Linked DNA regions of Homo sapiens: regions 2, 3, 4 and 5 are each linked to region 1. The links come from fine-mapping of genetic effects on gene expression. A gene starts in region 1. Each other region holds a variant in brackets. All regions are shown on one strand. Distances are from middle to middle.

Region 1 (5,856 bases):
CCAAGAACAGCAGAGAAGCAAATGAAAATACCAGAAACTGGCCGGACATGGTGGCTCATGCCTGTGATCCTAGCACTTTGGGAGGCTAAGGTGGGAGGATCACTTGAGATCAGGAATTCTAGACCAGCCTGGCCAACGTGACCAAACCCCGTCTCTACTAAAAATACAAAATTAGCTGGGCGTGGTAGCATATGCCTGTAATCCCAGCTACTTGGGTGGCTGAGCTAGGAAAATTGCTTGAACCTGAGAGGCGGAGGTTGCAGTGAGCCGAGATCGCGCCACTGCACTCCAGCCTGGGTGACAAAAGTGAAACTGTCTCAAAAAAAAAAAAAAAAGAAAAAAGAAAATACTAGAAACCCAGAAATTATGAGAGCACCTGTGAGAGAGTTTAATGCCAGGCCATGACCTTTCAGCAGCCTCATCACAGAAGGCTGGATTGCACCTCTCTAAATGGGCTTTTTCCTACTCAGTTTTTCTTGCTCCAAGAGTAACCCTTAGATTTTTTTTTTTTTCGAGACAGAGTCTCGCTCTGTCACCCAGGCTGGAGTGCAGTGGCAGGATCTTGGCTTACTGCAACCGCCCCCACCAGGTTCAAGCGATTCTCCTGCCCCAACCCCCCGAGTAGCCGGGATTACAGGCTCGTGACTCCACGCCTGGCTAATTTTTCTATTTTTAGTAGTAGAGATGGGGTTTCACCGTGTTGGCCAGGCTGGTCTCAAACTCCTGACCTCAAGTGATCACCCACCTTGGCCTCTCAAAGTGCTGGGATTATAGGCGTGAGCCACCGCGCCTGGTCAAATTTTTTATATTTTGTAGAGATGGGCACTATGTTGCCCAGGCTGTTCTTGAACTACTGGGCTCAGGCAATTCTCCTGGCTCAGCCTTCCAAAATGCTCAGATTACAGGTGTGAGCCACCGTGCCCAGCCTCTAAGATGTCCTTGTCCTAGCTATTATTATGTACTATTATCTTCTAATCTTTCCCAACAGGACTATTTTCATTGTAACTCAAATGGAAATGCCTTTCATCCCTCCTAAATTTGTCAAAGCTGAGGATGGTAAATGCACATAACAGGAAGAAAGCATTAGGAAATTAGCTCAAATCATCTAGAAAGAAGTGCTTATTGACTTATCCTAAATATATAATTTATATAAATTTACATAATTACATAAAAGTACTTAGGCTAAATTACAGTAAATATATTTTTGTTATACTGTTAATTACAACCTTGAAGCTTACTAAATTATTTTAAAACTACTTGGCCACATTAAGTTCAGATAAAAGTTGTCCCTAAAACATTAGCATTGATGTCCGCTAAAGTAGAACTCCCTTTAAATTATTATTATTATTATTATTGAGACAGTTTTGCTCTTGTTGCCCAGGCAAATGCAAATACACGATCTCGGCCCACTGCAACATTTGCCTCCTGGGTTCAAGCGATTCTCCTGCCTCAGCCTCCCCAGTAGCTGGGATTACAGGTGCCCACTACCACCCCCGGCTAATTTTTTAAATTTTATTTTTAGTAGAGACGAGGTTTCACCATATAAAACATAATTTAGGGCCAGGCGCGGTGGCTCATGCCTGTAATCACAGCACTTTGGGAGGCCGAGGCGGGCGGATCATCTGAGGTCAGGAGTTCGAGACACACCTGGCCAACATGGTAAAAACCGTCTCTATCAAAAAAACAAAAAAAAATTAGCCGGGCGTGGTGGCGTGCGCCTGGGAGGCTGAGGCAGGAGAAACACTTGAACCCGGGAGGTGGAGGTGGAAGTGAGCCCAGATCACGCCACTGCACTGCAGCCTGGGCTACAGAGGGAGACTCCTTCTCAAAAAATAAATAATAAATGTTTTAATTGCAAAAATTAGCATGTAGAAAATAGGGCAAAAATACAAATTGTCTGTGATGCTAAGCCCGAGACACCCAACAAGTTAATTTTCCTGTTTTTAGCGTAAAATCTTTCAAATAAATAACTACTGCTTTTAGTCTCTGCACCAGGAATCTCACGTGCTTTCAAATGTTTTACAAAGCACGTAAAAAAGTATTTGAAAAGTCCCACTTACCCCTCCCACTCCTATTTTTAAGATTATTAGGATCGGCCCAAATTTAAAAATTTAACAAAAAGAGTGCTTATTAATTACATTTTAAAATGAAGGGTTACAAAAAGAGATGAGCCTGGCATTTCTAATTCGGGGGCCTTGGGACCTCTCCCCTCCAAGTGCAAGTTGTAGCAACCTGCCGGGTCCACGCATGGGCGGGTCATACTCCACGGGTTCCGGTTTCCACTCCCTGTGAACCAAAAGCCAGAGAGGCCCACGCACGAGTCCGGAAGTGAGGGAGGGAGGACTTTCGTACGCAGCCGCCTCCCAGCTGGAACCTCATCTTTAGTGCTCGGCCGCGGGCGGCGTAACTCGGGGTTCCGCCTCGGAATACCTCCCACTTCTCTTGTCTAAGAGGAGCAGTAGCAAGCTGAGCTCAGAGCGAAGCTGGCGAGCCAAGGAGATAAAGAACCCTCGGTGGGGATGCCCAGAGGGTGCATGCTCCACGCCCCTCGAAACCGATTCTCATTGCTGCTGCTGCAAAGCAACCCGAAGTGCGCCACCTACCCGACTGAGGCTGCGCAAGCCCCGGGGTCTGGGCGGGGTGGTCCTCGTGCGCGCCGCGTCGCCGTGGAGACGAGGGCGGGCCCGCGCGAGACTGGCGTCTAGAGGCGCGCGAAGCGCTGAGGCGGGCGTGGACCGCGCGGGAGTTAAGAAGCAGGTCCCGGATCGCCGTATACCGCCGGGTTTTCTCCCAACGTCAGGCCCGATGGCTCGGCTTCCCCAGGTACGAGGCCCGGCCCTAACGTCCCCACCCTCTTCTGGGCTCGGCCTTTCCGGCAGTGAGCCCGGCAAGGACCTCAGTCGGGTTCCTCCGAGCCCGGTGAAATCTGTCCGAGCCTCCGCTTCCTCCCCTGAAAGTGCAGGTGATGTTGTCTACCTGCGGGTCTGTGGTGCGGGAATGGAGGAAGTGCGACAAGAGGGCGCAGGACGGGGCCCGGAGCCTGCCATCCTCTCCCGCCGCGTCTTCTCGGCTTCTTGTCTTCCGCCCTGGGGGCACCGCATCCTCCCAGGCGTCTAGTGCGCTCCTGGCCGGTGCTCGAGTCCACGCAATGCCCCTTAGCGTGCGCGGATCCAAATCAGGGGTTTCCTCCTCCCGGCTCCGTGGCCCAGGAGCGGAAGGGCTGGTATATGGGCGACCTTACTCCCACTGAGCCCGCAGGGAGTAACGCAGTAAACAAACCTGGAAGCCTTCCCCGCGTGGGAGGTGGGTACCTGTTTTTATGGGAGGCTGTTCAGGTTTCTTAACTGCTGTGTAGATGTGTTGTAAATATTTGTTGAATGAATGATGTGAGGGACTTGAGTACAGCCATACCTCGCTTTATTGCACTTCACAGATACCGTGTTTTTTACAAATTGAAAGTTTGTAGCAAGCAGCCCTGCACCGAGCAACTATTTTTTCAACAGCATGTGCCCACTTCCTGTCACTTACACTTTGGTAACTATCGCTATATTTCAAACTTTTTATTTCAGGTGCACCGTTACAGTGATCTGTGATCAGTGATCTTTGATGTTGTTATTGCAATTGTTTTAGGTGGCCACGAACCTCACTGGTATAAGACAGCAAACTTAAGTGTTGTGTCTGACTGCTCCACTACCTGCCAGTTCCCTGTTTCTCTCCTCCCTCTCGGTCCTCCTTGTAGCCTGAGAGGCAACAATATTGAAATTAGGCCAATTAATAGCCCCACAGTGGCCCCTAAGTGTTCAGTGAAAGGAAGAGTTCCATGTCTCTCACTTTATATCAAAAGCTAGAAATGACGAAGCTAGAAATGACGAAGCTAGAAATGCCTATGCTCTGTAAATGCAACAACAAACCCAGGATGACCACACATCTCTTTACTGAATGTCTTTACATCATATTTACAGTGTGGTTTACTGAATATTTTAAGCCTACTATCGAGACCTACTGTTCAGAAAAAAGGATTCCTTTCAAGATATTACTGGTCATTAACAAGGCACCTGGTCACCAAGGAACTCTGATGAAGATGTACAAAGAGATTAATGTTACTTTACATGTCTGCTAACACAGTATGCATTCTATAGCCCATGGTTCAAGGAGTAATTTTGACTTTCAAGTCATTATTTAAGAAATACATTTTGTGGGCTGGGCATGGTGGCTCATGCCTGTAATCCCAGCACTTTGGGAGGCCGAGGCGGGTGGATCACGAGGTCAGGAGTTTGAGACCAGCCTGGCCAACATAGTGAAACCCCGTCTCAACTAAAAAATACAAAATATTAGCCGGATGTGGTGGCGGGCACCCATAATCCCAGCTACTGGGGAGGCTGAGGCAGGAGAATCACTTGAACCCGGGAGGCGGAGCTTGCAGTGAGCCAAGATTGCGCCATTGCACTCCAGCCTGGGCGACAGAGTGATGAGACTCCATATCAAAAAAATATATATATATTTTGTGACCCCATAGCTGCCATAGGTAGTGATTCCTCTGATGGATCTGGGCAAAGTAAATTGAAAATGTTCTGGAAAGGATTTCTAGGTGCCATTAAGAACATTCATGATTTGTGGGAAGGGGTTAAAATATCAATTCCAGCCTGGCCAACTTGAAGAAACCCTGTGTCTACTAAAAATACAAAAATTAGCTGGGTGTGGTGGTGGGCGCCTGTAATCCCAGTTACTCAGGAGGCTGAGGCATGAGAATTGCTTGAACCCAGGAGGCAGAGGTTGCAGTGAGCCAAGACTGCACCACTGCACTCCAGCCTGGGCGACAGAGCAAGACTCCGTCTAAAAAAAAAAAAAATCATTAAAAGGAGTTTGAAAAAGTTGAGTCAGGCCGCCATGGATAACTGAGAGACTCAAGACCCGAGTGGAGGAAGTAACTGCAGATATGATAGAAAAATCAAGCAAACTGGAATTAGAAGGGGAGCCTAAAAATGTGACCAATTGCTGCAACCTCATGATAAAACTTGGATGGATGAGGAGTGGCTTCTTTTTTTCTTTTTTTTTTTTTTTGAGATGGAGTTTCACTCTTATTGCCCAGGCTGGAGTGCATGGCACACTCTTGACCTCCTGACCTCATGTGATCCACCTGCTTCGGCCTCCCAAAGTGCTGGGATTACAGACCTGAGCCACTACATGCCCGGCTTTGTTTTTACTTTTGTTTTCAGACAGGGTCTTGTTCTGTTGTCCAGGCTGGAGTGCAGTGGTGATCATGGCTCATTGCAGACTTGAACTTCTAGGCGAAAGTGATCCTCCTGCCTTAGCCTCCTGCCTCCTCAGTACCTGGGTGTGTAATACCATGCCTCGCTAATTTTTTTTTTGAGATGAGGGTCTTGTTAGTTGAGCAGGCTGGTCTTGAACTCCTGGTCTCAAGCAGTCCTCCTGCCTTGGCCTCCCAAAGTGCTCACCACAACCTCCGCCTCCCGGGTTCAAGTGATTCTTCTGCCTCAGCCTCCCGAGTAGCTGGGATTACAGGCATGTGTCACCACGCCTGGCTAATTTTTTGTATTTTTAGTAGAGACAGGGTTTCACTGTGTTAGCCAGGATGGTCTCCATCTCTCAGCCTCCCAAAGTGCTGGGATTACAGGTGTGAATCACCGTGCCTGGTGAAAGTGGTTTCTTGAGTTGAAATCTACACCTGGTGAAGATGCTGTGAACATTGTTGAAATGACAGCAAAGGATTTAGAGTATTACATAAACTTAGTTGACAAAGCAGTGGTAGGATTTAAGAGGATTGACTTCAATTTGAAAGATGTTCTACTGTGGGTAAAATGCTATTAAATAGCATTACATGCTATAGAGAAATCT
Region 2 (5,856 bases), 97 kb after region 1:
CTGGTTTTCTTAGGCAGAGGACCCTGCGGCCTTCCGCAGTGTTTGTGTCCCTGGTTACTTGAGATTAGGGAGTGGTGATGACTCTTAATGAGCATGCTGCCTTCAAGCATCTGTTTAACAAAGCACATCTTGCACCGCCCTTGATCCATTTAACTCTGAGTGGACACAGCACATGTTTCAGAGAGCACAGGGTTGGGGGTAAGGTCACAGATCAACAGGATCCCAAGGCAGAGGAATTTTTCTTAGTGCAGAACAAAATGAAAAGTCTCCCATGTCTACTCCCTTCCACACAGACACGGCAACCATCCGACCTCTCAATCTTTTCCCCACCTTTCCCGCCCTTCCATTCCACAAAGCCGCCATTGTCATCCTGGCCCGTTCTCAATGAGCTATTGGGCACACCTCCCAGACGGGGTGGTGGCCGGGCAGAGGGGCTCCTCACTTCCCAGTAGGGGTGGCCGGGCAGAGGCGCCCCTCACCTCCCGGACGGGGCGGCTGGCCGGGCAGGGGGGCTGACCCCCCCCACCTCCCTCCCGGACGGGGCGGCTGGCCGGGCGGGGGGCTGAACCCCCCACCTCCCTCCCGGACGGGGCGGCTGGCTGGGCAGAGGGGCTCCTCACTTCCCAGTAGGGGTGGCCGGGCAGAGGCGCCCCTCACCTCCCGGACGGGGCGGCTGGCTGGGCGGGGGGGCTGACCCCCCCCACCTCCCTCCCGGACGGGGCGGCTGGCCGGGCAGAGGGGCTCCTCACTTCCCAGTAGGGGCGGCCGGGCAGAGGCGCCCCTCACCTCCCAGACGGGGTGGCTGGCCGGGCAGGGGGGCTGACCCCCCCCACCTCCCTCCCAGACGGGGCGGCTGGCCGGGCAGGGGGCTGACCCCCCCACCTCCCTCCCGGACGGGGCGGCTGGCCGGGCGGGGGGCCGACCCCCTCACCTCCCTCCCGGATGGGGCGGCTGGCCGGGCGGGGGGCCGACCCCCCCACCTCCCTCCCGGACGGGGCGGCTGGCCGGGCAGAGGGGCTCCTCACTTCCCAGTAGGGGCGGCCGGGCAGAGGCGCCCCTCACCTCCCAGACGGGGCGGCTGGCCAGGCGGAGGGCTGACCCCCCCACCTCCCTCCCAGACAGGGCGGCTGGCCGGGCGGGGGGCTGACCCCCCCACCTCCCTCCCGGATGGGGCGGCTGGTTGGGCAGAGGGGCTCCTCACTTCCCAGTAGGGGCGGCCGGGCAGAGGCGCCCCTCACCTCCCAGACGGGGTGGCTGGCCGGGCAGGGGGGCTGACCCCCCCCACCTCCCTCCCGGACGGGGCGGCTGGCCGGGCAGGGGGCTGACCCCCCCACCTCCCTCCCGGACGGGGCGGCTGGCCGGGCGGGGGGCCGACCCCCTCACCTCCCTCCCGGATGGGGCGGCTGGCCGGGCGGGGGGCCGACCCCCCCACCTCCCTCCCGGACGGGGCGGCTGGCCGGGCAGAGGGGCTCCTCACTTCCCAGTAGGGGCGGCCGGGCAGAGGCGCCCCTCACCTCCCAGACGGGGCGGCTGGCCAGGCGGAGGGCTGACCCCCCCACCTCCCTCCCAGACAGGGCGGCTGGCCGGGCGGGGGGCTGACCCCCCCACCTCCCTCCCGGATGGGGCGGCTGGTTGGGCAGAGGGGCTCCTCACTTCCCAGTAGGGGCGGCCGGGCAGAGGCGCCCCTCACCTCCCAGACGGGGCGGCTGGCCGGGGGGAGGGCTGACCCCCCCACCTCCCTCCCGGACGGGGCGGCTGGCCAGGCGGGGGGGCTGACCCCCCCATCTCCCTCCCGGACGGGCTGGCTGGCCGGGCTGAGGGGCTCCTCACTTCCCAGTAGGGGCGGCCGGGCAGAGGCGCCCCTCACCTCCCGGACGGGGCGGCTGGCCGGGCGGGGGGCTGACCCCCCCACCTCCCTCCCGGACGGCACGGCTGGCCAGGTGGGGGGCTGACCCCCCCACCTCCCTCCCGGACGGCACGGCTGGCCGGGCGGGGGGGCTGACCCCCCACCTCCCTCCCGGATGGGGCGGCTGGCCGGGCGGGGGGCTGACCCCCCCCCACCTCCTTCCCGGACGGGGTGGCTGCCGGGCGGAGACGCTCCTCACCTCCCAGATGGGGCGGCTGCCGGGCGGAGGGGCTCCTCACTTCTCAGACGGGGTGGTTGCCAGGCAGAGGGTCTCCTCACTTCTCAGACGGGGCGGCCGGGCAGAGACGCTCCTCACCTCCCAGACGGGGTCTCGGCCGGGCAGAGGCGCTCCTCACATCCCAGATGGGACGGCGGGGCAGAGGCGCTCCCCACATCTCAGACGATGGGCGGCCGGGCAGAGACGCTCCTCACTTCCTAGATGTGATGGCGGCTGGGAAGAGGCGCTCCTCACTTCCTAGATGGGATGGCGGCCGGGTGGAGACGCTCCTCACTTTCCAGACTGGGCAGCCAGGCAGAGGGGCTCCTCACATCCCAGACGATGGGCGGCCAGGCAGAGACACTCCTCACTTCCCAGACGGGGTGGCGGCCGGGCAGAGGCTGCAATCTCGGCACTTTGGGAGGCCAAGGCAGGCGGCTGGGAGGTGTAGGTTGTAGTGAGCCGAGATCACGCCACTGCACTCCAGCCTGGGCACCATTGAGCACTGAGTGAACGAGACTCCGTCTGCAATCCTGGCACCTCGGGAGGCCGAGGTTGGTGGATCACTCGCGGTTAGGGGCTGGAGACCGGCCCGGCCAACACAGCGAAACCCCGTCTCCACCAAAACCAGTCAGGCGTGGCGGCGCGTGCCTGCAATCGCAGGCATTCGGCAGACTGAGGCAGG[A/C]GAATCAGGCAGGGAGGTTGCAGTGAGCCGAGATGGCAGCAGTACAGTCCAGCTTCGGCTCCGCATGAGAGGGAGACCATGGGGAGACGGAGACGAGGGAGAGGGAGAGGGACAGGGAGAGGGAGAGGGAGAGGGAGGTGTCCATCTTTATTTCAAGGGCTTTCAAAACAGCCTGTTTGTAACCTTCATTATTAGCCACTGAGAGCTCCATTAAAGCAGCCCATTAGCTTTCTGGATCAGAGCACGGTGGGACCTTGCCTCACCTTGGCAGACATTCTTAAGTGTCATTTCCCCGAAACACTTAGTTCCTGTTCTGCTAGACCTGGCTTTTTGAAGTCTTGAAATGATAGTCATCAACAAAATTACAAAGGTCGGGCCGGGTGCAGTGGCTCACACCTGTAATCCCAGCACTTTGGGAGGCCGGAGCGGGCGGATCACAAGGTCAAGAGTTCAAGACCAGCCTGGCCAACATGGTGAAACCCTCTCTTTACTAAAGATACAAAAATTAGCCCGGTCTGGTGGCACATGCCTGTAATCCCAGCTACTCGGGAGGCTGAGGCAGGAGAATTGCTTGAACTTGGGAGATGGAGGTTGCCGTGAGCTGAGATCGCATCATTGCACTCCAGCCTGGGTGACAGGGCGAGACGCCGTCTCAAAAAAAAAAAAAAAGAAAAGAAAAAGGCCGGGCCTGGTGGCTCATGTCTGTAATCCCAGCACTTTGGGAGTCCAAGGCGGGCGGATCACGAGGTCAGGAGATCAAGACCATCCTGGCTAACACGGAGAAACCCTGTCTCTGCTAAAAATACAAAAAATTAGCCGGGCGTGGTGGTGGGCGACTGTAGTCCCAGCTACTCAGGAGGCTGAGGCAGGAGAATGGCATGAACCTGGGAGGCGGAGCTTGCAGTGAGCTGAGATCACACCACTGCACTCTAGCCTGGGCGACAGAGTGAGACTCTGTCTCAAAAAAAAAAAAAAAAAAAAAAATTAGAAAGCTCAAGGAGCAGATCTACATCTTTTTAGTTCCCACAGGGACAAACTTGCCCACAGCAGGTTCTTAGTATATGGTGGGACATAATGAAGAAATAATAATAATTTATTTATTTATTTATTTATTTATTTTTGAGTTGGAGTCTTGTCCTTTCGCCCAGGCTGGCATGCAGTGGCACCATCTTGACTCACGGCAAACTCCACATCCTGGGTTCAAGTAATTCTCCTGCCTCAGCCTCCCAAGTAGCTGGGATTACAGGTGTGCGCCACCACGCCCGGCTAATTTTTTGTATCTTTAGTAGGGACGGGGTTTCACCATGTTGGCCAGGCTGGTCTCGAACTCCTGACCTCGTGATCCACCCGCCTTGGCCTCCCAAAGTGCTGGGATTACAGGCATGAGCCACCACGCCCAGCCTGTAATGAAGAAATTATTAATCACTAACTGTATGTCTGCCACTGTGTTGGGCATTGTGTGATGGGAGACAGAAAACAAATACATAAACTCATTCTGCCCATGGCATCATTATCTTCATTAATAATTTCCTTTTCACAGTGATTCTGAGAGGTCAGGTTCAAAATGATAAATGGTAACACAACCAGTAAGTGGTACAGCCAGGTTAATTCACATCTCCAGTTCCAAAGTCCAGGTGCTTTCTTCTTGATCAAGAGGAAGATCTTTTTGATGACTTTGTAGGAGGGTGAAATTTTTGTGAGGAGATAAGAAACAACTGAGAACCAATTCAAGAGAACAGATCCACGTGTCCCCAGTCATGTCAGCCACAAGTTCTTCCAGTGCTCAGAGCTAGTGCTGAGGGAGACTGAGCATGGAAGTATCTGGGAGAGGCTTCCTGTGAGTGAGAGGGTGAGGATGGTGGCTGGAGTGGGCAAGATGGGGAGGCCCAGACTGAAGAGATTGGGCTGACCCTATAGATAGATATTCGAAAGATATTTGAGCAGGTACATGGAACTAGTAAAATGACAGTTTTGGAAATTACCTTAAGTTCAGTGTACTTTATCTTAGGACAGAGGGGTGAGATGGAGGGGCATGCATTGGGAGAAGTTGCAGTCATCTTTAATCTGGAGGATTTCAGGCCAGGTGTGGCGGCTCATGCCTGTAATCCCAGCACTTTGGGAGGCAGAGGTGGGTGGATCATTGGAGGTCAGGAGTTTCAGACCAGCCTGGCCAACATGGTGAAACCCCATGTCTACTAAAAATACAAAAATTAGCGGGGCGTGGTGGTGCATGCTTATAATCCCAGCTACTCCGGAGGCTGAGGCACAAGAATCACTTTAACCCAGGAGGCAGAGGCTACAGTGAGTTGAGATGGCGCCACTGCACTCCAGCCTTGGATGACAGAGCGAGACTCCATCTCAAAATAAATATCTCTCTCTCTCTCTATCTATCTGTCTATCCATCTGGAGGGCTTTGAATGCTAGTTTGAGGTTAGCCAGAACTCTGGCTTCCTTAGTACGAAGTCCAGGGAGATGGTTTTAGGTGGTGGCCACGGGAAATAGAGGCTGATGAAAGGACATCTCTTGTCTCTTCTGGCTTCTGCAGACAGAGCAGCTTTGCCTTTACCTAGTCATGTATTGTGGGCTGGTATAAGATTCATTCAAAAATGGCTTCAGGCTGGACGCGGTGGCTCACACCTGTAATCCCAGTACTTGGGGAAGCTAAGGCAGGTGGATCACCTGAGGTCAGAAGTTGGAGACCAGTCTGACCAACATGGCAAAACCCCATCTCTACTAAAAATACAAAAATTGGCCAGGCATGGTGGCGCACATCCCAGCTACTCGGGAGGCTGAGGCAGGAGAATCGCTTGAACCTAGGAGGTGGAGATTGCAGTGAGCCGAGATCGCACCACTGCACTCCAGCCTAGGTGACAGAGCAAGATTCCATCTCAAAAAAAAAAAAAAAAAATGGCTTCAGTACTGAAAACACGCACACACAGTACCCGTTTCTAAATGGCTTCAGTACTGAAGACACGCACACACAGTACCCGTTTCTAAATGGCTTCAGTACTGAAGACACGCACACACGGTACCCGTTTCTAAATGGCT
Region 3 (5,856 bases), 110 kb after region 1:
ACGGGCAGGGTGCGGGCAGCAGAATTCCACATGGCCCAGCTCCTGCGTTGGGCCTGGAGCCAGTGGAGGGAGGTAAGGCTTTGGTGCGAGGTGCCACCCGTGTATGACTTTTGGACAGGTGGGCTGTGTGTCAGCAGGACTCACAGGCAACATATGGGCCACACCACCTACCTCTGAGCTGAAGGAGGAGAACAGGCAGCATAGAAAGTGTTAACTCAGTTTTATGAGCTGATTTGGCTCAAAATTTTGTGTTCTTTCAGATCCTAGGCTGTTCTTATTTGAACTTACTGCATCTAAAATTCCTGATCTAACCATTTACAGGAGTCCTACGTCCTACTGAGTGTAAAACATGTTTAAACTCACATTAATTGAGCTTTTACCGCAAATCAAGCACTTACCTCATCAAATCATCACAGAACCCCTAAGAAGCACGTATTTATAGATGAGGCCAGAGAGGTTAATTTACACTCACACAGATGATGTATAAAATGGAGGCAAAGCAGGAAGCCACCCCCAACTCAGACCCCAGCCCACGGTAGCTGCTTTCTCCTCTGTCTGCAGTGCCTGGCCCTGCGGGGAGCGGAGCGGCAGAAGCTGATGCGAGCAGACCTGCACCACCAGCACAGCGTGCTGCACAGGGCGCTGCAGGCATGGGTGGTAGGAACTGCTGCTTCCCTCCTGATCTTGCTGTGGGGACAGGGGAGGTTTCTGGAGACTTTGTTTTCCTTCCTTGTTCTTCCTGTCCGTCCCAGAACAGAGTCACGTGACACACCTCAAACCAAGCAGGTGCCCCGGACAGCGGGCCTTAGGCCATAGGGTTCTTTGATTCTTGCTTGGCCAAGTGGAAACAAGTGCTGTCTGTGGGTACTAGCCTTGTAGCGAAAGCAGCTCCTTTCCCTGGAGTCCCATGGTTTGACTTAGGAGGTGAGGGCCTGTGAGACAGTTTCTCCCTGTCGTCTGGGAGGGTCTGCTGGCCCTGGGACCAGGGGCTGTTGGCCTCTTCCTACCCTTTTTGAGTTCTCTGGGCATGGCAGCCTTGTGGTAGATGCACCTCTGAGGCCTGCCTAAACAGGGGGAAGTGTGGGCCCAAGAGCAGCCTCAGTCTTCCTTGTCCCCTACAGACTTACCAGGGCAGGGTGCGAAGCATCCTCCGGGAGGTGGCAGCCAGGGAGAGCCAGCACAACAGGCAGCTGCTGCGGTGAGTCTCCCGGGCGCCTCCCAAGCTCCAGCTGGGGAACAAGGAATGCACTCCAAACCCCAGCCTTTTAGGGGGTCCTGCTGAGGGCCAGGTCGGGGATGATCCCGGGTTCCTAGTCGCTAATATCATGGTCTTGGCTTTTCCACTTCACTCACGGGTTCGCCTTCATGTCTTAAGCCCCTGCTGTGTGCAGGGCAGGACCTTGGAAAGCAGCTGTTACCTGCATGCCTTAAAGGCCACTTGTCTTGCTCTTCTGAGCACTTTTTCCTCCCTGCTTCACGCCTACAAAATTCAGCTTTGCAAGGCACCTTGTCATCTCTTCCACTCCAGAGGCTTCAGCGACTCCCTTTCCTGTCAATTTCCAAGTAGTCCCCTTCCAGCTTGCTCTGCAGGCCTGTCACTGACTCTCCAGCGTCACCTCTAGGCCCTGTCAGACCATCTGCACCACTCACCCCTGTGGAGGGTGCTTCTGCAGCTTCTGCCACTCTTTCTAAGCCCAACTCTAACCTCACTCCTTCCCAGCAGTCCTCCCACATGCCCCCTTTCATTTCCTTCCTTTGTATTTGTTCAGCACATGATACTCCTGGTGGCCTATGGACAGTGGGTCTCGTGGACTTTAAACACCTCCATCCTTAGCTGGGCGCGGTGGCTCATGCCTGTAATCCCAGCACTTTAGGAGGCTGTTTGACACCAGGAGTTTCAGACCAGCCTGGGCAACATAGCGAGACCTTGTCTGTACTAAATATAAAAAAAATTAGCTAGGCACGGTCATGTATGCCTGTGGTTCAGGTACTTGGGAGGCTTAGGTGGGAGGGTCACTTGAACCTTGAAGGTCAAGGCCACAGTGAGCCGTGATTATGCCACTGCACTCCAGCCTGGGCGATGGAGTGAGACCCTGTCTCTCAAAAGTAAATAAATAAAATAAATGCCTCCATCCCTCATATGGAGTCCCATAGAGCACCCATCCCGCTCTTCAGACAGGGTGGAATAAGCAAGAACTCCCTGAGCTAACTCAGCAGCAAGCTGAGGCGTAGGCAACCTTCCTCCAGGTTCCCTGTCTCTCCACACTTCTCTTATCACAGTGTGAGTCACCTGTGTTGCCACTGCCTGGTTATGCCCTGTTATCCCCGTAGCACCTGGAGTTTGGTCTCCAGCAGTGCTGGGTCCCTCATGCACTCTTGGTGCCCAGCCCAGAGCAGCTGCTCAGTAGCCATTTGTTGGACATAGATGTGCAAGTAAACATAGGTGTTGGTGAAACAGACATTCTTAGGTGTAGAGTCCCTGACTCAGGAGTAGGGGAAGAAGTAGGAATGATTCACAGAAGCCTCCCTTCTCTCTCTATCCTGGTGTCATCTGCCTTCC[T/C]CGCACCCATGCATCTGCAGCGGGGCATTACGTCGCTGGAAAGAGAACACCATGGCCCGAGTGGATGAAGCCAAAAAAACCTTTCAAGCAAGTACTCATTACAGAAGGACCATATGTTCCAAGGTGAGGTATAAGGAGGCAAGCTGGTCACCCAGGAGAGTTGGGACTGTGTTCTGGTGAGGGCGTGGGATGTAGGGGGTGGTGCCAGAGATTTGAACTGAATAAGGAACCTAGAAAATGGGTAACTTTCCTCCAGCACACACACAAACATCCATGTGGGCACATGTTTAGTTTTTTACTGAATTACAAACCAATATGCATTAAATAGAAACATAACACATCATAAGTGAACTAGTTCTTATCAGAACCAGTATTTTCTTTTTTTCTTTTTTTTTTTTTTTTTTTTTTTGAGACAGTCTCACTCTGTCACCCAGGCTAGAGTGCAGTGGTATCATCTCAGCTCACTGCAACCTCCATCCCCCAGGTTCAAGCGATTTCTCCTGCCTCAACCTCCCGAGTAGCTGGGACTACAGGCTTGCGCCACCACGTCCGACTAATTTTTGTATTTTTAGTAGAGATGGGGTTTCACCACATTGGCTAGGCTGGTCTTGAACTGATGACCTCAGGTGATCCATCTGCCTCAGCCTCCCAAAGTGCTGGGATTACAGGCTCTTTGAATCCAGGAGGTGGAGGTTGCAGTGAGCCGAATTGCACCACTGCACTCCAGCCTGGACAACAGAGCAAGGTTGTCTCAAAAAAAAGAAAAGAAAAGAAAAAATACCCGAAGCTAGCCTGTGCCTCCCTTCCCCTGGAAGAAGGAACACAGGAATCTTTGCTTGGCTTCAGAGCTTGAAGAGGAGGCCTTTTTGGTGGGAATGGAGTTCATGACAGCTCGCAGAGCAGGCACCAGGCATTCCCTGGGCAAGTGTTTTGTTATTGTGATTTTGTAGGCATCACTCATACAAAAGAATGTATACGACGTAGGTGTGTTCCATTTACTAAATAGTAATAGAGGCCGGGCGCAGTGGCTCACACCTGTAATCCCAGCACTTTAGGAGACTGAGTCGGGTGGATCACTTGGGGTCAGGAGTTCGAGACCAACCTGGCCAACATGGTGAAACTCCGTCTCTACTAAAAATACAGAAATTAGCTGGGTGTGGTGGTGCATGCCTGTAATCCCAGCTACTCAGAAGGCTGAGGCAGGAGAATCGCTAGAACCTGGGAGGCAGAGGTTGCAGTGAACCGAGATCATGCCACTGCACTCCAGCCCAGGTGACAGAGCGAGACTATGTCTCAAAAAAAAAATTACATATATATATTTTATATATATATAAAAATAGAATTAAGACCCATGTATATAATGACTTCACTACTTTATGGCATGGTATGATATGTAAATCCTGGTAGAAGAGTCCCAGCAGCTGAAATGCTGGGCTTCCTGTGAGGGGCTGGGGCCCTGTCCTATTGCTCAGTGGTCTGCGTGCAAGGCAGTTACTTCCTGGACCGTGTGTGAGAAGCAAATGGCAACAGCTTGGCCTTGCCTCTCCAGGAGCCACCGTCACAGACCTGGGGTGGACCCGGAAGCCAGGAGGTATAGTGACTCTTGCTGTGCTCCTTGCCTGCCCATAGGTCCTGGTCCAGTGGCGGGAAGCTGTGTCAGTGCAGATGTATTACCGACAGCAGGAGGACTGTGCCATCTGGGAGGCCCAGAAGGTGCTGGACAGGGGTAAGTGGGGCCCCAGAAGCAAGTCATGTTGAGGAATGTGAAGACAGCGCTGTTGTGGAGATCCCTGTGGCCCGCATAAGTCTGTCTCCTCCTCATACATGCCAGTTCCCTGTGGTTGCCATGACAAAGTACCACAGACTGGGAGTCTTCAAACAACACAAAATTGCCCTCTCAGTTCTGGAGGCTGGCAGTCAGCGATCAAGGTGTGGCAGGGCCATGCTTCTCCACAGGCTCTAGGGGAGGGTCCTTCCTTGCCTCTCCCAGCTTGTTTCTTGCTTGTCATGGCTTTCCTGGACGTGTAGACCCATTGCTCCAGTCTTTGCCCCATCTTGACATATCGTTCCCTTCCTGTGTCTGGGTCCCTTAGAAGGACTCTGGTCATATCGGATGAAGGGCCCACCCTACTTGAGTGTGACACCATCCTAACCAATTACATCTGCAGTGAGCCTAGTGCCAGATAAAAGTCACATTGTGAGGTTCCAGGAAGGACATGAATACGGCAGGTGTGGAGGGGGCACTGTTCAGTCCAGTATATCTTAGAAATCTATTCCCAACTGACTGCCAACCAGTTTATGTTAAAATGGAAGGCTAGAGCTTGAGATCTACAGAGAAATAAAGAAAAGAAGCTGGAATGGAGGAGCTTGGGGTGGTTGGGGAGGGGGTTGTTTTGATGGGAAAGTCCTTGCTGCTTGTCAGGGCAGCCCCCACCGTGTTAGCGTCCTGCTTCCTTGTGTAGCTGGGCCCTTAAATGTTTAGGGGCCAGAGACTTTCTAATTCGATCTCAGGAAGTCCTGCTGCCTGCTGTATATACATCTTTGGAAAGATTGCAGGGCACAGTGGTACACACCTATAGTCCCAGCTACTTGGGAGCCTGAGGTGGGAGGATCACTTGAGCCCAAGAGCTGGAGGCTGCAATGAACTATGATCACACCACTGCACTCCAGCTTGGGTGACAGAATGAGACCCAGTCTCTCTCTTTTTTGAGACAGAGTCTCACTCTGTCTCCCAGGCTGGAGTGCAGTGGTGCGATCTCGGCTCACTGCAACCTCCACCTCTTGGGGTTCAAGCGAATCTCCTGCCTCAGCCTCCAGAGTAGCGGGGACTACAGGTGTGTGCCACCACGCCAGGCTAATTTTTTGTATTCTTAGTAGAGACAGGATTTCACCGTGTTAGCTGGGATGGTCTCGATCTCCTCACCTCGTGATCCGTCCGTCTCGGCCTCCCAAAGTGCTGGGATTACAGGCGTGAGCCACTACACCTGGCCAAGACCTAGTCTCTTTTAAAAAATCTTTGGAAAGATAGTCTAGAACAGGAGTCCATGCCCCTGCTTGCAAGATGCACAGACACGCGGCAGACCCATGGGGAGCTGTCTCCTAACACAGCTAGGGGTCCCATAGTAGGAGAATCTGACACGCTGAAGGGGACAGCTCATTTTTAGAATAAATGAAAATACAAATAAAAGTGAAAACATTTAGAAATTGTTTAAATTGGCCCATAGAGAAATTGACCAAGTGGTTAAGTTGGTTTAATAGAGTTTGCTCCAGGACAAAACTGAATCAGCTTTGGTTTG
Region 4 (5,856 bases), 140 kb before region 1:
AAATCTTCCACCTCACACGGAGGCCTAGCTCCTTCAGCTACACAAGGATCTTGCAGGAGGGAGAGGCTCAGCAGTTCCTGCTTCCCTGCTCCGTCCAAGTTATCTCAGCCCCTCTGTGCTGTGGTCTTCAAGGCCCGACTGGGACCCAGTAGGCCACGGTTTATCATTGGCCATGTTTCCTGCCTCTGCATCACTAGCAGAGACTTTAACACTCTTTCTTTTCATTAATCAGGCACAAAAAGGAAAAAAAAAGTCCTCATGTGTAATTGTTTGTATTTCTATACTTTAACCTGGGAGGATTTTTTTGTTTTTTTGTTTTTTTGAGATGGAATTTCGCTCTTGTTGCCCAGGCTGCAGTGCAGTGGCATGATCTCAGCTCACTGCAACCTCTGCCTCCCATGTTCAAGCAATTCTCCTACCTCAGCCTCCAGAGTAGCTGGGATTACAGGCGCCCGCCACCATGCCCGGCTAATTTTTGTATTTTTAGTAGAGATGGGGTTTCACCATTTTGGCCAGGCTGGTCTCTAACTCCTGACCTCAAGTGATCCGCCCGCCTCGGCCTCCCAAAGTGCTAGGATTACAGGCGTGAACCACCGTGCCCACCCCAGGATTTTCTTTTTTGTGCCTGATTACCTGAAGGAGAGAGAGTCAAGGTATCGCTGGTGACACGGGGGCAGGAAACATGGCCACACACATACATACACGTGAAAGGCAACTGTCTAACTGAAGAAAATCAGCTGCACATTACAGAGAAAGAGTTAATGTCCAGAAGTGCCTGAAGGTCTTCCTGGAGGTTGCCCGTGAGCCAAGATCACACCACTGCAGTCCAGCCTGGGTGACAGAGTGAGACTCAGTCTCAAAAAAAAAAAAAAAAAAAAAGTCATAGTGCTCGCATGAGTTAAGCTTTTAGGTGAGATTCCTGAGTGACATTTGATTCAACAGCAGTGTATAAAAACACTAGGTCCTTCCCATGTTGGGTTAGCTGTAATGGTGGTTAGTGAAATGTCTGACAATTTGAGAGCCAAAATGATTTTTTCATTTATTCATTCAAGAAGTATTTATGGGTGTCTTATTTGTGCCACGCACCGTGCTGGGCAATGGAGATGCTGTGGGGACAAGATATTTGGGGTCACGTCTGTAATCCCAGCACTTTGGGAGGCTGAGGCCGGCAGATCACCTGAGGTCAGGAGTTCAAGACCAGCCTGGCCAACATGGTGAAACCCCGTCTCTACTAAAATTACAAAAATTAGCCAGGTAAGGTGGTGTGTGCCTGGAATACCAGCTACTCGGGAGGCTGAGGCAGGAAAATCGCTTGAACCCAGGAGTCGGAGGTTGCAGTGAGCCAAAATCACACCATTGTACTCCAGCCTGGGTGACAACAGCGAAACTCTGTCTCAAAAAAAGAAAAAAAGAGGCCAGGCACGGGGGCTTAAGCCTGTAATCCCAGCACTTTGGGAGGCCGAAGTGGGTGGATCACCTGAGGTCAGGAGTTCAAGACCTGCCTGACCAACATGGTGAAATCCCGTTTCTACTAAAAATATAAAAAATTAACTGGGCGTGGTGGCGGGCACCTGTAGTCCTAGCTACTCGGGAGACTGAGGCAGGAGAATCACTTGAACCTGGGAGGTGGAGGTTGCAGTGAGCCAAGATCGCATCGCTGCACTCCAGGCTGGGTGACAGACTGAGACTCCATCTCAAAAAAAAAAAAAAAGAAAAGAAAAGACGTTTAATTGACTCATGGTTATGCAGGCTCTATAGAAGCATGGTGCTGGCATCTGCCCAGTTTCTGGTGAAGACTAAGGGAGCTTTCAATCATGGCAGAAGGCAAAGGGGGATCAGGCAAGTCACATGGTGAAAACAGGAGCAAGTGAGAGTAGGTGCCACACACTTTTATTTTTTAATTTTATTTTTAAAAATTTTTGTATTTTTTATATTTTGAGACAGAGTCTCGCTCTTTCACCCAGGCTGGAGTGCAGTGGCATGATCTCAGCTCCCTGCAACCTCCGCTTCCCAGGTTCAAGCAATTCTCCTGCCTCAGCCTCCTGAGTAGCTGGGACTACAGGCACATGCCACCATGTCCAGATAATTTTTTTTCTTTCTTTCTTTTTTTTTTTTTTTAGACGGAGTCTCACTCTGTTGCCCAGGCTGGAGTGCAGTAATGCTATCTCGGCTCACTTCAACCTCCACCTCCCAGGTTCAAGTGATTCTCCTGTCTTAGCCTCCCAAGTAGCTGAGATTACAGGCACCCATCACCACCCCCAGCTAATTTTTGTATTTTTAGTAGAGATGGGATTTCACTGGTTGGACAGGCTGGTCTCGAACTCCTGACCTCAGGTGATCCACCCACCTCAGCCTCTCAAAGTGCTGGGATTACAGGCGTGAGCCACTGCACCCAGCTGTTTTTATTTTTATTATTTTTTGAGACAGGGTCTTGCTGTGCCAACCAGGCTGGAGTGCAGTGGCACAATCTCAGCTCACTGCATTCTCTGCCTCTGGGGCTCAAGCGATCCTCCCACCTCAGCCTCCCGAGTAGCTGAGACTACAGGTGTGCACTACCATGCCTGGTTAATTTTCGTATTTTTGATAGAGACAGGGTTTCACCATGTTGGCCAGGCTGGTCTCCAACTCCTAAGCTCAGGTGATCTGCCCACCTCTGCCTCCCAAAGTGCTGGGATTACAGGCGTGAGCGTGAGCACAAGCCCAGCCTATTTTTATTTTTTGTTAAAGACAGGGTCTTGCTCTGTCACCCAGGCTGGAGTGTGGTGGTGCCATCACGGTTCACCGCAGCTTCTACCACCTCCTTGGCTCAAGCAATCCTCCCTCCTCAGCCTCCAGAGTGACTGGGACCACAGGTGTCAGCCACCACACCTGGCTAACTTTTATACTTTTTGTAGAGGGGTTTTACCATGTTGTCCAGGCTGGTCTCAAACTCCTAGGCTGAAGCGATCTGCCCGCCTCGGCTTCCCAAAGTGCTGGGATTACAGGCGTGTGCCACTGCGCCCGGCTAATTTGTGTATTTTTTGTAGAGACAAAGATTTCATTACGTTGCTCAGGCTGGTCTCAAACTCCTGGGCTCAAGCCATCTGCCCGCCTTGGCCTCCCAATGTGCTGGGATTACAGGCGTGAGCCACTGTGCCCAGCCTTATTTTTCTTTTTAATGTTTATTTT[C/G]TCCATCAAATATAATTTGGAAAATGAGGCAAAGCAGAGGAAACGATAATAAATTATCCATAGTGTCTCACCACTTAAATAGAAGTACTAAAATGTTGGTATATTCTTTCTTTCTTTCTTTTTCTTTCTTTCTTTCTTTCTTTCTTTCTTTTTCTTTCTTTTTTTCTTTCTTTCTTTCTTTCTTTCTCTCTTTCTTCCTTCTCCTCCTCCTCCTTCTTCTTCCTCTTCCTCTTCTTCTTTTTCCTCCTCCTCCTTTTTCTCTCTCTCTCTGTTTTTTTCTTTTCATGGAGTTTTGCTCTTGTCGCCCAGGCTGGAGTGAGTGCAACGGCGCCATCTCAGCTCACTGCAAACTCCACCTCCCAGGTCCAAGTGATTCTCCTGCCTCACCCTCCCGCCTGCCACCATGCCCAGCTAAGTTTTGTATTTTTAGTAGAGATGAGGTTTCACCATGTTGGTCAGGCTGGTCTTGAACTCCTTGACCTCAGGTGATCCACCTGCCTCAGCTTCCCAAAGTGCTGGGATTACAGGCGTGAGCCACTGTGCCTGGCCAAATGTTGGTATATTTTCATCTTGACTTTTTTTTTTCAGTTTCAATGCACTGTTGTTAAAAATACTACTAATGAATATATGCTTTTTTTTTTACATTAAGAAATGAGTGTCTCACTTTATCGCCCAGGGTAGAGTGCAGTGATGAGTTCATAACTCATTGCAACCTGAACTTGTGGGCTTGAACAATTCTCCTACCTCAGCCAAGTGAGTAGCTGGGATTACAGGCACCCACCACCACACCTGCCCTCTCCTGCTTCTTAAATGAAGCAGTATATTATGAATATGTTGCAGATTAACACTGGGACTGTAGGTAAGTGTGTTTTGGGGCCACTTTCACTTTTTATCTTAAACACTTTCATAGTGTTTTATTTTATTTTTACAACGCAAATGGTTACTTTTGTCATTTGAAAAGCAATAGAGGCGCCAGGCACGATGGCTCACACCTGTAATCCCAGCACTTCTGGAGGCCAAGGTGGGTGGACCACCTGAGGTCAGGAGCTCGAGACAAGCCTGACCAACATAGTGAAACCCTGTCTCTACTAAAAATACAAAAATCAGCCAGGCATGGTGGTACATGCCTGTAAACCCAGCTACCTGGGAGGCTGAGGCAAGAGAATCGCTTGAACCTGAGAGGCAGAGATTGCAGTGAGCCGAGATCGTGCCATTGCACTCCAGCCTGGGCAACAAGAGTGAATCTCTGTCTCAAAAACAAAAACAAAAACACTTATATAGTGTTTTATTTTTACAACGCAACTAGTTACTTTTGTCATTTGAAAAGCAATAGAGAGGCCAGGCGTGGTGGCTCACACCTATGATCCCAGCACTTTGGGAGGCTGAGGCGAGTGGATCATGAGTTCAGGAGTTCAAGACCAGCTTGACCAACATGATGAAACCCCGTCTCTACTAAAAATACAAAAATTAGCCAGGTGTGGTGACGCACACCTGTAATACCGGCTACTCAGAAGGCTGAGGAAAAGAGAATCGCTTGAATCCAGTGGCGGAGGTTGCAGTGAGCCGAGATCGCACCACTGCACTCTAGCCTGGGCAACAGAGCAAGACTCTGCCTCAAAAAAAAAAGAAAAGAAAAGCCATAGAGAACCCATAATATCATGAGTACCTTTCAAGTCATTACATAAAAATTAAAAATAAAATAAGTAAATATTAAAGAAATCTTATTTTCACGGGCTGCAAAGCTTCCCGACTGGATGATTGGTTGTATCTTGATCTTGATTCTCTAACGGTTTCTCCTGTGGAACACTTAGGTTGTGTCCTTTTTCATTTTCTTTGCTATTATAGATAGCACTGAGAAGAACGTCTTTGCACATCATACATACCAGAAGCTTTAATATGATAATCTGATTTCATATGCTGGACTAGAAATGGAGAAAGACAGCTTGTGGGGCGACGAGTGCTGCTTTTATGAGGCGTTTTCTACTGGAGGTGGGAGGTAAGTAGATTGGTGGGGGAAAGGAGCTTAAAACAACAGTATTCTGAAATTCAAAATTTAGATTTAAAATAAGAATTATGAGCCGGCCATGGCGGTTTATGCCCGTAATCCCAACACTTTGGGAGGCTGAGGGTGGGGCAGATCACTTAAGGCCAGGAGTTCGAGACCAGCCTGGCCAACATGACAAAACCCAGCCTCTACTAAAAAAAAATATATATATATATTAGCTGGGTGTGATGGTGCGTGCCTGTAGTCCCAGCTACTCGGGAGGCTGAGGCACGAGAATCGCTTGAACCCAGGAGGCAGAGGTTGCCGTGAGCTAAGATTGCGCCACTGCACTCCAGCCTGGGTGACAGACGAAGACTCTGTTTCAAATAAATAAATAAAAAGAAGAATCGGGGCCGGGCACGGTGGCTCACCCCTGTAATCCCAGCACTTTGGGAGGCCGAGGGGGGCAGATCACAAGGTCAGGAGATCGAGACCATCCTGGCTAACATGGTGAAACCCCATCTCTACTAAAAACACAAAAAATTAGCTGGGTGTGGTGGCGGGCGCCTGTAGTCCCAGCTACTTGGGAGGCTGAGACAGGAGAATGGCGTGAACCCAGGAGGCGGAGCTTGCAGGGAGCCGAGATCGTGCCATTGCACTCCAGTCTGGGCAACAGACTCCATCTCAAAAAAATAAAAATAAAT
Region 5 (5,856 bases), 61 kb before region 1:
CTGGGCCTCCCAAATGCTGGAATTACAGGTGTGAGCCACCACGCCTGGCCTAATTTTTGTATTTTTAGTAGAGACAGGGTTTCACCATATTAGCCATGCTGGTCTCGAACTCCTGACCTCGTGATCCGCCCGCCTCAGCCTCCCAAAGTGCTGGAATTAGAGGCATGAGCCACCGTGCCCGGCCTGGAATATAGATTTTTTAAAGAGGTTTTGACTCAATGATAATATAACAACAATATGGCCACCTTTTTTACTCTTGGTACATAGTTCTTAGTCTCTGTGAGGCAGGTCTCGGTGTCTTATTCACCAGTTTTCATCTCTAGCACAACATATTCTTAAGTTTGGAGGCCCATGGATATAAATTACCTTCACATATTCCAGTAAATCGGGAGGACATATCAATTACAGTTTCTGGTTAGGGAGGAAGATTTTCCTGGCATGGCTGAAGAGGGAGGCCCTAATTTCTTGTCAGTACCCACTGATGGTTTCAGGAAACCCAGCAAAAACAGGTATTCTCTAACAGTCTATAAGTGATATTGTATCTGTAAGAATCAGTCTGAAATTTTCAGGGTATTTCTCTATGAAGATTAAAGACGGATTTTTTTTTTTTTTTTTGAGGCGGAGTTTCGCTCGTTGCCCAACCTGGAGTGCAACGGCATGATCTTGGCTCACTGCAACCTCCGCCTCCCGGGTTCAAGCCATTCTTCTGCCTCAGCCTCCCGAGTAGTTGGGATTACAGGCACCCGCCACCATGCCCAGCTAATTTTTGTATTTTTAGTGGAGACGGGGTTTCACCATGTTGGCCAGGCTTTTCTTGAACGCCTGATCTCAGGTGATCCGCACCCTTCGGCCTCCCAAAGTGGTGGGATTACAGGCATGAGCCCCTGCGCCCGGCCCAGAGTATTTCTCTATAACAAATCCATGCTTTCTTTTAATTTTAAACTAGGCTCTTTATACTAAACATGTTTTTTGTCTTTGACTTTCTGCAATAAGAGGAACCACACAACTTCCAGAAGTCTTTACCGGCTTTTATGTTAAGGCTTCAGTGTCTCATGCTGCTAGGGAAGATAAAGCTTTTGTAGGTCTATGGTTCTTAAGGGTATGATACTAAATCTGAGCAGAAGGGTGGCATCCAGGCAAATAGGGCAGAAGCTAGGTTATTATTTACACTGACTGTTCTTTTTCCCTTCCATGCAGTGCTCTGGTCTGGGGTCTCTCTGTGAAACACAATCCTCAGAAAGTGGGTAAAGACCATACGTTGGAGGATGAGGATGTCATTCAAATTGTGAAGAAGTGAAACCTTTCCCTTTTCCCATCTGCCGGACGAACCACAACAGCGTTCCCCATGATCAAGCACCCTACCCCAGTTCTTTCTGGTTTTGGCAGTCACTGGATCAGGATCCAGGGGAGGGAGATGGAGGCACCCAAACTGGAACTTCATTTGTCTTACCTTGGTGTCACCTTGTATGTCGAACTGCATAAAAGATCTGGTAGGCTGGTCAGCTACATGCAGCTCATGTGTCATTGTCAGAATTTGTTTTGGGATGGGCTGAATGAGGAAGGGTATATACGGTGAAGCAGCTACAGAAGGGATCCTTGGGAACTTCATCTTGAGTGTGAAATGGATAAAAATATGACATGCTGCATCTTACTTGATGTTTACTTATGGGAACCCCTTCCAAACTAGATATGGCTTTCAGTCCTTTCAAGTAGTCTTTCCCACATGATACTGGAGAGAGGAAGGACTTTATGTAAGTTAATTGATCACTCCCCGCAAGGCTAACCTATTTTGGGAGATCATGTAATTAAGTACTCCGACCAGGCAGATCAGGGTTTGAAATTGCAGGTCCACCTCTAGTTAGCTGTGGAGCCCTGAACAAATTACCCAACCTTTATGAGCCTCAGTTTCCTCATGTAACATGGGGATAGTAATAGCACTTACTTTCTGCGGTGGTGATTGTTAGTAATGGAGGGAGATGGTACTTATATGTCAAATACTGTGCTAAGCAATTTGTAAGTACTCAATGACTCTTGGCTTTTGTTGCACCGAGCCTTTTACTGGGCTGTCTGCCCTATGCAGAGCACAGCTGTACATCATCAGTGTTGGGTTGAATGTTGAGCTGAACTATGTTGCCACCTGGGCCACTAAAATGCTTTTTTCTTTTTCTTTTTCTTTTTTTTTTTTTGAGATGGAGTTTCGCTCTTGCTGCCCAGGCTGGAGTGCAATGGCATGATCTCGGCTCACCGCAACCTCCGCCTCCCGGGTTCAAGCGATTCTCCTGTGTCAGCCTCCTGATTAGCTGGGATTACAGGCAGGTACCACCATGCCCCGCTAATTTTGTATTTTTAGTAGAGATGGGGTTTCTCCATGTTGGTCAGGCTGGTCTTGAATTCCTGACCTCAGGTGATCCGCCTGCCTCAGCCTCCCAGAGTGC[T/C]GGGATTACAGGTGTGAGCCACCGTGCCCGGCCAACTAAATGCCTTCTTTCCCATAACCCAGACTTTCTGCTTGAATCCCCATGAAAGTCCTGGCTTCAGCCAATAACTTGGGCGAAGGTGCATTGCAAGTGAGGCAACTGGTGTGATCAAAGCAGGTTTGTGTGTTCACATATGTGTATATATGGAGGTGGGCGGTTTAGGAGGAGGCTTGGTGTCAGGACTACTTGAGAGGATGCTAAGGACATAATCAGATATTTGGGGGACTAGGAATATAGGAATTTAAGGGGATTGCTCTGATTATGTGAAACTGGTTGATGAAAATCTTGGTGTGGTGGGTAACAATATGGACGGAGGGGGCTGGGCCCAGTAGCTCACACCTGTAATCCCAGCACTTTGGGAGGTCAAGGCAGGAAGATCGCCTGAGCTCAGGAGTTCGAGACCAGCCTGGACAACATAGCGAGGCCCAATCTCTACAAAAAAATTTAAAAAATTAGGTGGGCATGGTGGTGCATGCCTGCAGTCCCAGCTGTTCGGGAGGCTGAGGTGAGGACTGCTTGAGCCTGGGAGGTCCAGGCTGCAGTGAGCTAAGATGGGCCACTGCACTCCAGCCTGGGTGACAGAGTGAGACCCTGTCTCCAAGAAATAAAAATTAAATAATTAAAGAATATGGGCAGAAGGGAGGGTATGGACATGTAAGTATGGGGGAGAAATCTTAAACTTGTTAACTAACTTGCTCTTGGGAAGAAGTCAAACATTATTTCAGTATGGATGGAGTAGTCCCTGAGAAAATCAGGAAGAATAGGTTTGCAGCAAGACAGAATTTGATTATTTCTTCAAATGAGGCAAGCCAGAGCTTTTAGCAGGTCATGAGTGATCACAGTGTGGGATTATTCACATACTCAGCCTCTCTCCAGTGCTTGTTTCTCCTGCTGCCCTAATAGCAGTTGTTTCCCTTTGATAGTCTTCCTGGAGCTTGGGCTTGTCACTGTCCCCAGACCTGGAAGGTAAGCTCCTGAAGCCTGGTATGCTAGTTACTTTTCAGAATATCGGCCTTGATACCACTGGTGCATTCATGATAGAGGCCGTGGTCTAGAGCCTGCCCCAACCCTGCAGGGGAACAGGGAAACATTGGCTTTCTGAGCTACGGGATTTCCAGGAAGGTTTGTTCTCCAGCCAGAACATATTGGGTTTCTGGGGACTCTTCTTGCCAAAATTCACTTTCATTGAGCAAGCATTTAGCACTGCCAGAATGTTGGGGAGAGAAGGTTGCTGAAATCCAGTTCATCCTAAGGCCTCAGGATGTTCTGTGAATAGGCTTTGTGTCCATCATTTAGCACCCTCCCCATGGCTTGGTCCAGGGACCCCTGGTCTCCTTGAGGAGAGAATTACCCTACCTTTCCCTTTCTCCTCTGGGCTTAGACTTAGCAGTTCTGGGAGAGGGGTATGTTTGGTATTGGGAATGCTGCCTAGGGTATGGCCACTGTGGAGGTACAGCTAAAGGCTTTCTCCTCATTAACTCTAAGACTTTACTGGTTTGGCTGTCATAGCATGATTTGAATTTCCTGTGCTTTTACATATTCCATGTTTCTTTCCTGACTTTATTACAAGTAAACAGATCCATTGTTCTGTGCCATTTAACTAGTTAGAACACGTTTAGCTGCATTTAGCAGAAAGTGCTAACTTAAGCGGCTGAAATGGAAGGGAACTTGGTCTTACCTTTTTGGGAAGCTGTTTTCCAGAAGCCACCCAGTTTGTTGTCTCGTGGCCTAAAATTGGGTCACATGTCTATTTTTGAATCAATTGTTGGTAAAGGGAATAGAATTATTGAAGAACCAGAATTTAACCCTGTAAGTTATCGTCATTCTTGGTTTGTGTTTATGCTCATAGTTCACAAAGGCCAATGGACCTCCCACTTCCCTTCCCTGTTAATAGAGTCTGGCTTAAAAGACACTCAGTAGCTATCTCCTAGGGGAAGGCCTAGCTGCACTCTCTGTTCACTTCATTCCCACTTCCTTTTACCACTGACCTCCCACAGACTTATTTAACTGCTTCCTTTGGGAGGGACTATTCTTTCCTCTCCTACCTGACCTCCCCTGCTTAACAGATTTTCCATGATATGCTTTGTGGTCCTCAGCTGTTTTACTTTCAGGATGCCTTCTATATCCTCAGCTTCTCTTAACTTTTATTTTGCACATCCTTCCAGCACTGATTGCTTGTGAACTCATCTCGTGCCTGCAAGACATCAAAAGTTTCTCCAAAGACATCCCTTCCTCTCTGCCCTCATCCTATATCAAGGTCTTAGCTCCTTGAAGACTGCATTAATGTGTCTTTTGCCTTCATCCCCCCCCCACCCTCCCGCTTCCTCTAGTCCTTGTGTTTACCAAAATACTTTTGCTAAAACCTGTATGTCTAGCTTCTGCTGATACTCTTAGCAATACTCCCTTATTTCCTTCTGGCGCCATTTGCCAATCACCAGCTAATGGCTTTGCTCTTTGCATGGTACCTGTTTCTGTCCTACTAGCTTCTAGTCTGAAAAGGAAGCCTTTACTAGCAGCTTCAACCCAGTCCTCCTTACCTTGCACCTATTAACGTTGGTTCAACATGAAGGGGAAGTAAGATAAGTGGAAGAGGATACACAGGAAAGGTGGAACTGGATTCAGGTGTCTGTGTTCTGCCATTGACACTTGGGACTGCGTTCCAGCTTCCACCTGTGGAAACCAGAAAGCATTTGCCAAAAATTCTAAACAGAGGGTCTATTTCTGAAGCTGAGGAATCACATGGAGTGAATAGCATGGGGGAAGGGGATTACTAATGAGGCTGAAAGAAAAGTACCAGGAAGAGACTGACTTCATGCATAATCCATAAAGCCAGGTTTTCTTGAAAGGTGACCTGCTTTCTTGTATTCCTGCAAGTACACGGCAGGGTGGGCAGTTCCAGGCTTATAGTCATTATTCCCTAACAAACGGTCAAGACTTAGGCTGCCCAAGACTCTACTACCCTTGTAGTCAAAAATCCAACCACCTTGACCTTTACCTCATTATCTGACCCTTTAGCATGGAGTCCTAAAATGGTCCTGAATGGACAAATATCTAGAACTCTGGTAAATTAACTTGAGTAGCATGGGAAATAAGTATCACCTCATAGCAGGACTGAAAAACCTCCAGTTAGGAAAGGGGACTCAGAACTGTACTGTATTCTGTAGAATCTTTATCCGTAAGTGCTATGTATATACTAATAGTTAAGGTGAATAATAAAACAATTGTGAGCTAAGGAATGTGATACAGAACACAAGGAGTCAATTAATGCATGAGTCTTAAGGGAAATTCTTAGACTTCAGTGGGTCTAAGCTCAGAACTCTGAGCTTAGAGAAACAGGATGCCCCAGTAAACATGATTTGTTTGAGAGAAACTACCATATGTA

Alleles and levels. Positions count from the first base shown, and alleles are read on the strand shown. Sizes are in standard deviations (SD) of each study's normalised expression. Not every link is listed here.
With allele C in place of T in region 3, the expression in CD4 T cells of the gene that starts at base 2,722 in region 1 is higher (large effect, 0.85 SD a copy in BLUEPRINT).
As copies of C replace G in region 4, the expression in esophagus muscle of the gene that starts at base 2,722 in region 1 goes up (small effect, 0.26 SD a copy in GTEx).

What was found. PIP is the estimated chance that this variant, and not a neighbour inherited with it, causes the effect.
Region 2: its variant is fine-mapped to the expression of SFI1 in whole blood (TOPMed, PIP 0.94).
Region 3: its variant is fine-mapped to the expression of SFI1 in CD4 T cells (BLUEPRINT, PIP 0.95). The same link has a PIP of 0.9 or more in atrial appendage and whole blood.
Region 4: its variant is fine-mapped to the expression of SFI1 in esophagus muscle (GTEx, PIP 0.90).
Region 5: its variant is fine-mapped to the expression of SFI1 in whole blood (TOPMed, PIP 0.93).

What each region holds. Positions count from the first base shown.
Region 1 is chr22:31,493,815-31,499,670 of GRCh38, forward strand. SFI1 (SFI1 centrin binding protein) reads left to right here and starts at 2,722. Exons shown (of 33, transcript NM_001007467.3): 1 at 2,722-2,823. RefSeq lists enhancers at 480-529, 2,804-3,073 and silencers at 2,564-2,783, 3,684-3,743.
Region 2 is chr22:31,591,086-31,596,941 of GRCh38, forward strand. All of the region lies in intron 15 of SFI1 (SFI1 centrin binding protein), which reads left to right. Among named protein-coding and RNA genes, the nearest start is that of MIR7109, 28 kb to the right of the region's middle. RefSeq lists enhancers at 1-748, 1,558-2,366. The variant A/C (reference allele first, on the strand shown) is at 2,809.
Region 3 is chr22:31,603,748-31,609,603 of GRCh38, forward strand. It overlaps SFI1 (SFI1 centrin binding protein), which reads left to right. Exons shown (of 33, transcript NM_001007467.3): 18 at 1-72; 19 at 562-657; 20 at 1,122-1,198; 21 at 2,581-2,683; 22 at 4,190-4,286. Among named protein-coding and RNA genes, the nearest start is that of MIR7109, 15 kb to the right of the region's middle. The variant T/C (reference allele first, on the strand shown) is at 2,561.
Region 4 is chr22:31,352,907-31,358,762 of GRCh38, forward strand. No RefSeq gene overlaps it. Among named protein-coding and RNA genes, the nearest start is that of LINC01521, 9.1 kb to the left of the region's middle. The variant C/G (reference allele first, on the strand shown) is at 3,169.
Region 5 is chr22:31,432,675-31,438,530 of GRCh38, forward strand. It overlaps DRG1 (developmentally regulated GTP binding protein 1), which reads left to right. Exons shown (of 9, transcript NM_004147.4): 9 at 1,198-1,778. The coding sequence ends at 1,297. It also overlaps a transcript of EIF4ENIF1 not described here. Among named protein-coding and RNA genes, the nearest start is that of DRG1, 36 kb to the left of the region's middle. The variant T/C (reference allele first, on the strand shown) is at 2,436.